Linked DNA regions of Homo sapiens. Changing the gene in region 3 together with the main gene of any one other region gives a genetic interaction. Each region holds a gene or a part of one and is shown on either strand. Other genes may lie near its edges.

Region 1 (3,554 bases), about 18 Mb from region 3:
TTTCTAATTACAGTGGTATTTCAGTAGCTCCAAAGCACTTCAATTCCATCAATTCAAAGACAACCTCATCATCCCTCAAAAACTAGGTTCTTTCTCCTGCATTCCCTGACCATCCGCCATCTGCCCTGTCACCAAAGCTAGAAACCTTGGAATGATTATCTTCTTTTCTCTCACTCCCCGCCAGTAACTTGACATATATTTATCAAGCACCTACTATGTGCCAGCCTCCCTTCTAGACACTGGGGATGTGGCCGTGAGTATGCACACAAGGTGTCTGCTCCCAAAAAGTTGGCATCCTAGTGAAAAAGTGAGAGGGACACAATCATATATACAAACCAGAAAATCTCGGCCAGGCGTGGTGGCTCACGCCTGTAATCCCAGCACTTTGGGAGGTCGAGGCGGGTGGATCACGAGGTCAAGAGATCGAGACCACCCTGGCCAACATGGTGAAAACCCCGTCTCTACTAAAAATACAAAAAATTAGCCGGATGTGGTGGCGGGCGCCTGTAGTCCCAGCTACTCGGGAGGCTGAGGCAGGGAGAATCACTTGAACCCGGGAGGTGGAGGTTGCAGTGAGCCGAGATTGCACCACTGCACTCCAGCCTGGGCGACAAGAGTGAGACTCTGTCTCAAACAAACAAACAAAACCAAACCAGAAAATCTCAAGTGACGGTGGTCCAGGGACGATATGGTGATGTAACAATACTGGAAGTGAGGTCAGGACAGTCTAAATGTAGAGGGAAGGGCTAATTTAGAGGTCAGGGAAGGACTGGCATGAGCCACTTGCATTAAAACCTTGGGCATTCCAAGCAGAGGCAACAGCTAGACACAGGTCCTGAGGTGAGACTGAGCTTGGTCTGTAAGACGCAAAACGGCTGCAGGGCTGAAGGGTAACTGAGGACAGTGGTGGAGATGTGATCTTGCTCTGCTATTCCTTCTGTAAGGTTTGTGCCGCATCTTCTCTTCCTGGACTACAGCAACATTTCCAGAATGGCCTCCCTGCTTTGAGTCTGTCTGTCTCTGATCTTCTACACGTGGCCTCCTGAGTCAACTTCCAAATCTGCTCCTGTCACCTCTCTGCTTAGAGGCCTTCAGCTTAACCAGGCCCTCCAATCTCTGAGCCTGCTCACTGCCCAACATCAGCTCAAACCACGAAGGTGGCCCTGAATAGGCCGTGCAGTTGCCAACACCCCTTCCCTTCCAGGTGCTGGGCCACCTGCCTGGAGAACACACTTCTGTGTCTTTCTCCAGCTTCAATGCCACCTTCTCCATGCAGCTGTCTCCAGCTCCCCGGAGGCCACTGTGCCCCCGTGCTTCTCTGCGCACACCTCCATTTCACATGTCATTCCGTGACTTAAGGATCTGTTTTGCACATTTGTCTTCCTCAAGTGACTGAGACTCTGAAGGGCAGGGAGCATGTCTTACTCATTTTTTGTATTCACAATACCTGGCACAGGCCCTGGTACCAAGTGGACACTCAAACCTCGACCAAAATGTGGCTGGGCTGTATGGTAGTGACAAGACAACCAGTGTGGCAAAAGGATCCTGAAGCCAGATGGCCTGGGTTCCAACGCTGACTCTGCTAGACTCTGCTACTTACTAGCCACGTGAACCCAGGCAAGTTGGACACTATCTCCTACTTCAAAAGGGTCATGAGATTAAAATCAGGTAATCCAGTGAAGTGCCTGGAATAGGGGCAGATGTGTAGTACTAGCTCAATGTCTGAGGTATCATTATTATTAAATGAGGCAAGAAATGGATTCCAGTTTCTTGGATCCCAAGCTCTGACTCCAGCTTCTGGCCCTCAACCACAGCCCCAGACATGCAGTCTTGGCCTCTCTCTCACGGCACAGAGCCCAGCTGCCCTGATGCTGCCACCCCAGCTGTGTACCTGTATCTGGCAGGTACTGGAATTCCATGGGCTCACTGAGCTCCCGGTCGGAAGGCCGCCGCAGCTGCATGGAGACACGCACAGGAGCCTGCAGGCTGGGGTCTGCGTAGGGAGGGGTCCGGAACACAATGGCCACTTGTCGGTGCACATCAGCTTGCGAAAAGGAGCCTCGGGCCTCCCAGCCTGGTCCCGTGAAATACACCTCAATGTCCTCTGCAGGAGATGCGGTGGCAGTGTGGGTCAGTGTGTCTAACCCTCCATGGTCTCCCCCTCAACTTCTGATGCTTGTCTTCTGATACATCACCCTTCGGCCCACCTGAGGCCCCCGAGGCACAGGAGGAAGTATCCAAAGCCAGTTACCTGACACTCCACTTCTCTGCTCAGCTTCACCCCTTGCTCCCAAGAGCCCACCCCTGCCTCCTGATGTATACCTTTCTGCACCTTGTCACACAGTAGGAAGATCTCATCCCCACCGAGGCAGCTGCCAGAGTTTCGGTTCACTCGGCAGATCTTGAGCTCGGCAGTGTTGGGGGCACCTGAGGCAGTGAAAACAAGGGAGGATGACCTGAGCCACGAGAGGTCCCCAGGGTGGCCTGCAGGAGATGCAACTTCCCTGCCCAGCCCAGAGTCAAGGTTGCCCAGAGCTTGCCACCTACACCTTTGTAGCCAAAGTCAGACCTTCTTATTAGCTCCTCACCCCAACCGATTCAACAAGTATTTGCCTACTGTGCACTCAACACTGATCTAAGCAAGAATACGACCACACACAAAACCCAAACCTCTCTGCTCTCCCGGAGCTTATAGTCCAGTGGGTGCCAATCTGATCACACTCTTTCTCCACCTGACCAAAGCAATCTTTAAGGCCAGTCCATACCCACCTTGGCAATGAGCCCTTCCCTCCTGACCCCCAGTTTATCCTGGTTTCCCATCCTTGGGGCTCCAGATTCGTTTTATTTCCATTCATCCTGCTGGTTACTTAACTAAAGACTGCAGCTGATCAGTCAGCCCAATTCATCTGTGGGCTTCCATCACTGAATCATCATTCTCGAACACTATCTTGTTCCTGGGAGTTCATTTCCTAGAGTCATTATCGCAGTTGTGGGCACACCACCTTCTCATCACACAATACTGAAAATGCCCATCTCCCATCAGACTCTCTGCTAGACTTCCTGCCAGGCCAGAGCTACACCTCAAGGACAGCTCTGGGTCTTCTTTGCCCTCTCTCCCCAGCCAACAAAGAGCTGGGCAGAGAAGAGTAGACAAATACGCAAGATGATTGAATGAAGCCAGAGCGCCTCTTGCAGGCCACACTCACCCCAACCCCCTTCCTCCTATTCAGGCCCACCCTCTCCCCTTCCTGCGTCTCCCTCGCTACTCACGATTGTCAAAGATGGGATGAGAAAGGACAGGCGGCAGGCGGAGGGGCCTGCCTGATGGGTCCCGCACTGTCACCTGGAAGCAGAGCCGCACAGCATTCAGGTCGTAGTCCCCACGCTGCTCTTCTATAGGAACTGCCAAGAAAACAGGCGATCAGGAGAGCAGGGGAAGTGGGGATATAGGTGCTATCAGTGGGGGCAGGGAGCTCTGCGCTGGGAGGGCCGCTGGTGCGTGTGTGAAACACAAGTCCTAGAGGAGGCAGAACCCAGCACTGACTCCACTGTGG
Region 2 (3,646 bases), about 19 Mb from region 3:
ACCCTATGCCCAGTGCTTAATAAATGTTTGATAAACATAAAAAGCTGCTATCATCATCATCTGTGACAAGGGCCCCTCTGGAAGCCAGTTACTAGCTGGTTCCAGCAGCTCCAACTCCCAGGGCAGCCCCTCCACTCTGAGAACATTGGACAGGGCTGGCCATGCCCCAACTTATGAGCTCCTCCAAGGAGGCTGGGACCTTGGAGGGGGTTCCAGGTGACGGGACACAGCCCTTGTCCTCATGGGGGCACAGCCAGCAGCATGCCCAAGGCGCCAGGGTACTCACCCTCGGCCCAGGCAGCCCAATCTCCGGTTGACATCCCTCTGCAGCAACCCCTCCAGCAGGGAGCGTAGTTCAGGGGAGAAGGAGTCGGGCAGCTCCACGGCCTTTAGAGAGGAGTGGGACATTAGCAGGGGCTTAGGAAGAGCCCTTGACCCCATCCCAGCTCAGGGGAGAGAGGGGTCCAGGCCCCCGCAGAGGGACAGATGGGGCACAGCATCCTAGCTCGCCCAGCAGTCATGCTCCAACAGCACGGGGAGGGCGAGAGCCTATGGGGCAGGAGGTCTGTCTCAGAGGCCAGAGTAGGGGTCAGTGGCCCAGATCTCTGCTGGCTGGTGGGAAGCAAGAGTCATGGCCTGGCACCCACAGGAGCTCCCCCCAGCCCCCTGCGGCCCTGCACTGAGACCTGCACCCACCATCGTCAGCGTCATGCGGTCGATCTCATGCTTGTCTTTGGTCTTGTGCTGCCGGAAGGGGCTGTGCCTGGGCAAGAAAGGCCAAAAACCAATGTCAAAGGACAGGAATGGGGAAAGGGAGGCAGGCAGCATGGATGAGCTGTGGCCAAAGTCAGGGACGGTGCCAACCCTACCACCAAGGCAGCTATGGGCTCCCCTCCTTTGGCATCCCACCTGGATTGGGGAGGAACTTCTCTTAGCCCCAACCCACCTGCCCACCTGGGATGGGCCACTCACCCCCGCAGCAACTTGAAGAGCATGCACCCCAGAGAGAACCAGTCGGCACTGCTGTCGTAGGCCACGCCCTTCTGCAGGACCTCCGGAGCCATGTACCCGTGGGTGCCCCTGTGGGAGCAAGGGGGCCATAAGCGGGAGTGGCAAGGGGTGGGGAGGGAGAGGGTGGGGGGCACTCACACGCTGGCATGGGGCTTCTTCTTGGAGAAGTCACAGGCCAGGCCCAGGTCCGAGATCCGCACGTGGCCATGCTCGTCCAGAAGGATGTTGGCTGGCTGTGAAGGAAGCCCAGTGAGCTGCCTGGGGCAGCTCAGGATGGGGCCCAGCCAGGCAAGATGCCAGCTGGGTCACTGCTTCACTGGAGAGGACGATGGGTACCCAAAGAAAGGGCAAAGGTGGGGGTCCTCTCTCCTGTCCCCAGCTACAACCTGGACCCAGAGAGTGGCTCGGTGGGAAGGGCAGGGGCGGAGATGGGAAGATACGGGGCGGCCATGTCCCAGGAGCCCCACTCCTCTGGGCCTGGTGGCCGGGATGTCGAGAGGAAGGAGAGGACAGCCACGGAGGTCCAGCCTGGGGACAGCAGGGGCGCTCACCTTCAGGTCCCGGTAGACCACGAAGCGGTTGTGCATGTGCTCCAGGCCCAGGATGATCTCGGCCGCATAGAAGCGCATGTCAGCCTCTGAGAAGACCCCGTGCTGGGAGAGGTGGTAGTGCAGGTCCCCACCTGAGGGAGGCAGTCCCACAGGCAGCACTCAGTGTCTTGCCCCAGCCTCCCGTGCCTGGGCCCGGCCCACCCTAGGGCCCGGCCAGCACTCACCGTTCATGAGGTCCAGGATGAAGCTGAGCTTGTCTGGCGTGTGGAACGCGTATGACATGCAGACAATGAATGGGCAGTCCTAGGAGGGGAGAGGAGGGGAGGGGGCGGGCAGTTAGCAGGGGCGCCCGGGGTTCCAGAGCCTCAGCGGCAGCCCGGCCCACCCAGCTCACCCCAGTGCTGACGAGCGAGAGCATGATGCGCTCGTTCAGGGCCAGGGTCTCCCCCTGCTTCATCTTGATGCGCTTTTTGTCCAGGCACTTCATGGCGTACCTACGGGGCAGAGGTCGGCAGTCAACACCCACCCTCAGAGCAGGGGCCCAGGGCTGCCTCAGGGGGCGCTTGAGGGAAAGACTAGACCCAGGACCAGCGTGTGACACAAATCAGAGACAGGGAGGGCTGGGGCCAGAGGAGCCTGCGGGGGTAACAGCACGGCAAGACAGGAGTGCATGGAGCAGCAGGTGGCCCTGTGTGGAACCCGGCCTGTCAGGGTCCCCCAGGAGCCCGGCTCCCCGAGGTATCCCACCGCGCCGAGCAGGGTGCTCACATCTTGCCTGTGTCAGCCTTCCGGCACCCATAGACCTCGCCAAAGCCCCCGCGCCCAATGATGCGATGCACGCTGAAGTCATTCATGGTCAGCTGAGGGGCAGCGACAGCTGCGGTCACCACAGGCTGCCTCTGCCCAGCCCTGGGGCAGAGGCACCTGGGCAGCAGGGGCTGGCCCCATGCCAGGGTCCCCATACCCATGTCCTGGCCATCCTTGCCACATATTTACCTGCTCCGGCCTCCCCATGCTGGGATCCCGGCCCTGACCCCCATAGCCACGGCCCTGGGGGCTAAAGGACAGACATCCCCTGACCTCCCCCTCCCAGCCAAGCCACAGGCCCAGCTCCCGGGAGAGGAGCAGCAGGGTGCGTGGCTTTCCATGCCCCACCCAAGCCCACTCACGTGGATGTTGAGCTCCACATTCTTCCACTGGCAAAACCGTGTGAACTTATCGCTGGAAAAGAAGAATCAGGGCTCAGGGGCCACTCAGAATGTGGGAAGGATGATGCTGTCGTGAGCCTCCCCACCCAGCCGCCACTCCCTGGGGTCCCGTGAGGGTAGGTGTGGAAACATCACGAGCGTTAATGTCCTCTTCCAGGAAGGATATGTTGAGGGCCTGCCCGCCCACAGCACCAGTCAGGGCTGCTTGGGTGCCCAGCATGGCCCTCGGCCACCTGGCCGTGGCTTCCTGCTGGAATCAGATCCGCACAGAAAGGAGGTCTTCCAGTCTAACCCAGACTTCCTGCTACCATATCCTTGACAAGTACGTCTCCTGTCCCTGCTTGCATACCCCCAGTGACACAGAGCTCACTCCATGGCTGGGCAGCAGTGACCCTAAAACAGCTGCTCCCTAAAGCTGGCTGAAATCTACCTACAATTCCCACCCACCGCGCCAACTCTGGCTGTGAGGGTCACGGGGGCCATGCGCTCTACTGGGCCTACCCCTACCAGGACTCTGATGCTTCTCAGTCCAGGTGGGCCAGCAAGGTGCTATACAGCCCACGGGAGAGAAAGAGGCACAGGTGGCACAGCTCTCCTAGCTCCCTGGAGCTAGGAGACTGCCTGGGATGGGCTTTGAGCTGCCTGGTGCTGAGGAGGGCAGGGTGGGAGATGACCTGCAGCCTGTCTGACTTCTCAGGAGTCCTTGCAAGGGGGCCGCTGACGGGCCAGCCACCTGCCTGCTCAGGGCCTAATGAAGGCTGGCTTCTGCCCTCCACGCCAGCCATACCCCTTCTGAGAGCGGCCCCTCCCTCCCCCTTCCTCTCCCACACTTCCCTGCTCTCACCTCTCAATGAATTTCTGGAACACGTCCCCTCG
Region 3 (3,646 bases):
GGGCAGGCCCCTGAAGGGCCACAGGAGAAAGGAGTCAGTGCCTTCCTCCATCACCTCCTGCTCTGGGCCTCCTGTCCTGACACAGCTGTGTCCACCACTGCCCCAGCTCTCACTGGGCTCCAGAAACACCCTGTCCTCCTCTAGCCCTTCAGCCCTAGAGGTGGCTTTCTGTCGTGTCTTGGGTGCCTCAACAATGTCCTCTGATGGTTTCCTTAACCCTGCCCCACCTAACTAGTCACTTGAAAAGTGCAGGGTGCTCTGGGGTGGGTGGAAATGTGTGTTTATCTGTGTGTGTGTGTGTGTGTGTGTGTGTGTGTGTGTGTGTGTGTGTTGCAACAGACTGAATGTTTCTGTCCCCATAAAATTCCTATGTTGAAATTGTAACCCCTGATGTGATGCTTTTAGGAGGCGGGGCTTTTGGGAGGTAATTAGATCATGAATTACCTCCCTCCTGAATGGTATTAGTGCCCTTATCAAAAAGGCTGGAGAGAAACCACGCCCTCACCCCTTCAACCACGTGAAGACCCAGGGAGTCTGCAACCTGGAAGAGGAAGAGGGTGTTTCACCCGGAGCCCAGGCATGCTGCACCCCAGTCTCAGACTTCCAGCCTCCAGAACCCTGAGAAATAAATGTTCATTGTTTACGCCATCTAGTGCATGGCCATTTGTTACAGCAGCCCAAACTGACTAAGACTTATCTATACACACACACTCGCCCCTTATAGAGAGGGAAAGGCTACTATAATGATTATTTACCAAGCATGAAGACAGTTCAACCCAAAGCAGGATGTGTGTGAATTCACACCACCAAGAGCCTGAGATGTAATCACTACTACTTTGCTTTTGCTCAAACTGCTTTAAAAAGCAGGGACCCCAGGCCCACACAAATCTACAAGTCCTTTTAGCAAATCAGTCAAAGGGACCTTCCCCTGGCTGGACCCAGCCCTGGGTGCATGGCTTGACGCAGGGCACACAGACCAGATTTCAGCCCCTTTCACTCTCTCACGCAAGCTTACCATGTGCAGGACACCCCACCACTGCCAACCGCACCCACATAGGAGCCCCTTCCTCCTCCTCCAACTAACCCACCCTCTGGAATCCAAGCCCTCCTCACCCGAGAGCCTCCCACCTGCCACTCCTGCCAGGTCACTGCAGGCCCCATGAGGTCAGGCAGCCTGTCCTACGGCCGCATCCTCCCCACCCACTCCCACATTAGCAAAACAAGTACAAAGGGAAGGAAGGACACAAATGGACCCTCCTTCAACATGGATACCAGGAAAAACTGTCATTCCTTACAGAATGGCTTCTCACCAATGTCTTGCCAAAACTTCTAGCCCTGTACAAGTAACACAGCCTGGCCAGTAACTACCTCTAAGTATTCCCAAATGTGTTCACCTCCCGCTCTTTTCACCAAAGCCTCCAAATATTGGTGAACTTACAGAGTGAAAGTGCTGATAAATTATAGCGAGGAAGCAGCAATGTGCATGTCAACAAGCATTTCAACAGAAAGATCGGTATGAATTACAAGGCGGGTGAAAAAATGAAACTCACTTTCATAACTTTCTTAACTCAAAGCAAAGGAAAAACAAGCAATGATTATTTGTTTTTAAGAGGAAAGTATGATGCCAGTTTGTCTCATCAGCCACCACGCAAAGCTGTGAAAGATGGCGTGAGGCAGTGCCTGGTGCCCGCACACAGGGGCTGCTCCATGTATTTGATTTCACTTAATGAGAGATGTGCACTGCCCATGGAGTTAAGAAGAAACTGAGCAGATCTGCTCTGTCCAAAATCTCCTCCAGGAAGCTCCCTCTGACATCAAAACTAGCTGTTATGCAAGAAATCACTCAGAATCAGAATCACAGGAGACAGAACATTGTGCTAGGAAACTCTGGCTGCCACCATTTTACAAAGTTCAACCTACTTGTCCTGAACTCTATGGCCTGGGGCTGTCCTTCTGTGCCATTCGCTGCTTGGGAATAAACGGTGGCATTGTATCGGGTGCCAGGCTCTAACCCGACAAGCAGGACTTCCGTGTCTCGGGACTGCTGGCCGGAGGATGGGTCCACAGGTCCCACGAGGGACTCATCATGCACAGGGGCGGTGGGGCTCCCTGCCCGGCTTCTCTCTGTATTGCTGGCATCTGTTTCAAGCACAGGAGACAAAAAGACATCAACCACAAGAGGGACACATCCCCCATTTTCCTTCGGAGCCCCAACCCCATCAGATGGCCATCAGACAGTGGCCACAGTTGGTGCTCCATCAATATCTGCTCCCTTCCTCCTCCAGAGAGAGAGGCAGCCCCATAAAAAGGCCTGATAGCTCCATCTCCATTTGTACTGTTATTCCAGTAGCACCACAGATATCTGGTGCTTCTCTTTCAAACTCTGCTTATTTCAGGTCATTCTCCCTTCTTTGGGTTGTTATCTTCTCCTGTCCCAGCATGGATTTCCAGGGACAGCTCTGTGAAGCAGACTTTGCTAATCAGACCCCACTCAAGACACGTTTCCCTGGACCAGACCCTGGTTGGTGGGGCAGCTGGCTGGTGGGGCAGCTGCAGGGTGTGAAACAGGAGCAGCTGGGCTCCTTAAGTGTGCAGAGGGAGCTGCTCTGAGAATGAAGCTGATGAACAGAAAGAAGCAAGAGGGAGGGATGAGAATTGCCTCATCTCTTTCTCTAAGGCCTCCCGCTAGCAGGAAAATCCACATGAGCCAATAAATTGTTCCTTCTGTCTGAGCTATCCAAAGTCTGGTTTCTGTCACTCGCAAGCAAGGATCCTGACACCCACTCTGTAGCTCTGTTTTCTTAAGTATAAAATGCAGATTAAGTGCCTGTCCTCCTCATGGAGTTATCCTGGGGATCCTCTGCAAATGCTATGAAACCTGCAAATGACAACGCCAACATCAACCAGCAGACGTGATAAGTTCCTCTGAAGGCCCAACTTGGGTTGACACAGCTGTTAGATAGAAAGCTAAAGGGGCCTCTAACTTTCCTGGGTGCCAGACTCTAAAAAGTTTCAATTCCTATTGCTGTTCTCAGCCCCAATGTGTTCCCCTGTAAAATCAGAACACGTTTCCTTCCTTCCTCATGCAGGTGGGGGATCAAACTAAAATGTGGAGGAAAAGCCCTTTATAAATTCTAAATCTCCATACACATGGAAGAGCAATTTATTTTTTAGAACATTTAGTTACTGAAAGTAAGAACCAGTAAGGGAGACGGAAGGTACCCTTTGTAACTCACCCAAGCCACCTTCTGTGCCCAAGGGGTCTCCCTTTGTCTTATTTGATTGTAGAAGATACGGGTTGATGTTGTATTGAACCCCTGGCTTCAGGCCCGAGATATTGACCTGAAGTCTTGAGTCTTGAGTCAACTCCTCATGGCTTCCAATGCTTTCAAGAAGAACCCGGCAGGAGGCAGTGCCATTGCCATTGCTCCAGGAGAGAGCAGCCTTCCTCACACCCGTGAGGGCAACACGGAGATCAGAAACTGGGATCGGCTCTATTTTAAAAATACAACATGCATTAATGGAACAAGATATATGCAGTCACCTTCATTAAGAATGACTGGGGTTCAGTGCTGGGAGCGGGTTTTAAAAGAAAAAAAGAAAGAATGACTGAGGTCACTGATGTCCCAATGTGACTCACTAAAAA

Evidence for each region.
Region 1: changes in PTPRJ (region 3) and RELA together harm fitness more than expected from each alone (negative genetic interaction), as found in Homo sapiens cells (one large-scale study listed by BioGRID).
Region 2: changes in PTPRJ (region 3) and GRK2 together harm fitness more than expected from each alone (negative genetic interaction), as found in Homo sapiens cells (one large-scale study listed by BioGRID).

The regions. Positions count from the first base shown.
Region 1 is NC_000011.10:65,656,396-65,659,949, forward strand, and holds part of RELA (transcription factor p65), read right to left. Parts: intron 3,403-3,554; coding exon 3,271-3,402; intron 2,428-3,270; coding exon 2,323-2,427; intron 2,105-2,322; coding exon 1,892-2,104; intron 1-1,891. UniProt on the Homo sapiens protein: NF-kappa-B is a pleiotropic transcription factor present in almost all cell types and is the endpoint of a series of signal transduction events that are initiated by a vast array of stimuli related to many biological processes such as inflammation, immunity, differentiation, cell growth, tumorigenesis and apoptosis.
Region 2 is NC_000011.10:67,279,869-67,283,514, reverse strand, and holds part of GRK2 (beta-adrenergic receptor kinase 1), read right to left. Parts: coding exon 3,615-3,646; intron 2,784-3,614; coding exon 2,732-2,783; intron 2,423-2,731; coding exon 2,331-2,422; intron 2,057-2,330; coding exon 1,957-2,056; intron 1,866-1,956; coding exon 1,787-1,865; intron 1,694-1,786; coding exon 1,563-1,693; intron 1,245-1,562; coding exon 1,150-1,244; intron 1,081-1,149; coding exon 973-1,080; intron 764-972; coding exon 697-763; intron 388-696; coding exon 287-387; intron 1-286. UniProt on the Homo sapiens protein: Specifically phosphorylates the agonist-occupied form of the beta-adrenergic and closely related receptors, probably inducing a desensitization of them. Key regulator of LPAR1 signaling.
Region 3 is NC_000011.10:48,123,461-48,127,106, reverse strand, and holds part of PTPRJ (receptor-type tyrosine-protein phosphatase eta isoform 1 precursor), read right to left. Parts: intron 3,495-3,646; coding exon 3,237-3,494; intron 2,140-3,236; coding exon 1,921-2,139; intron 1-1,920. UniProt on the Homo sapiens protein: Tyrosine phosphatase which dephosphorylates or contributes to the dephosphorylation of CTNND1, FLT3, PDGFRB, MET, KDR, LYN, SRC, MAPK1, MAPK3, EGFR, TJP1, OCLN, PIK3R1 and PIK3R2. Plays a role in cell adhesion, migration, proliferation and differentiation.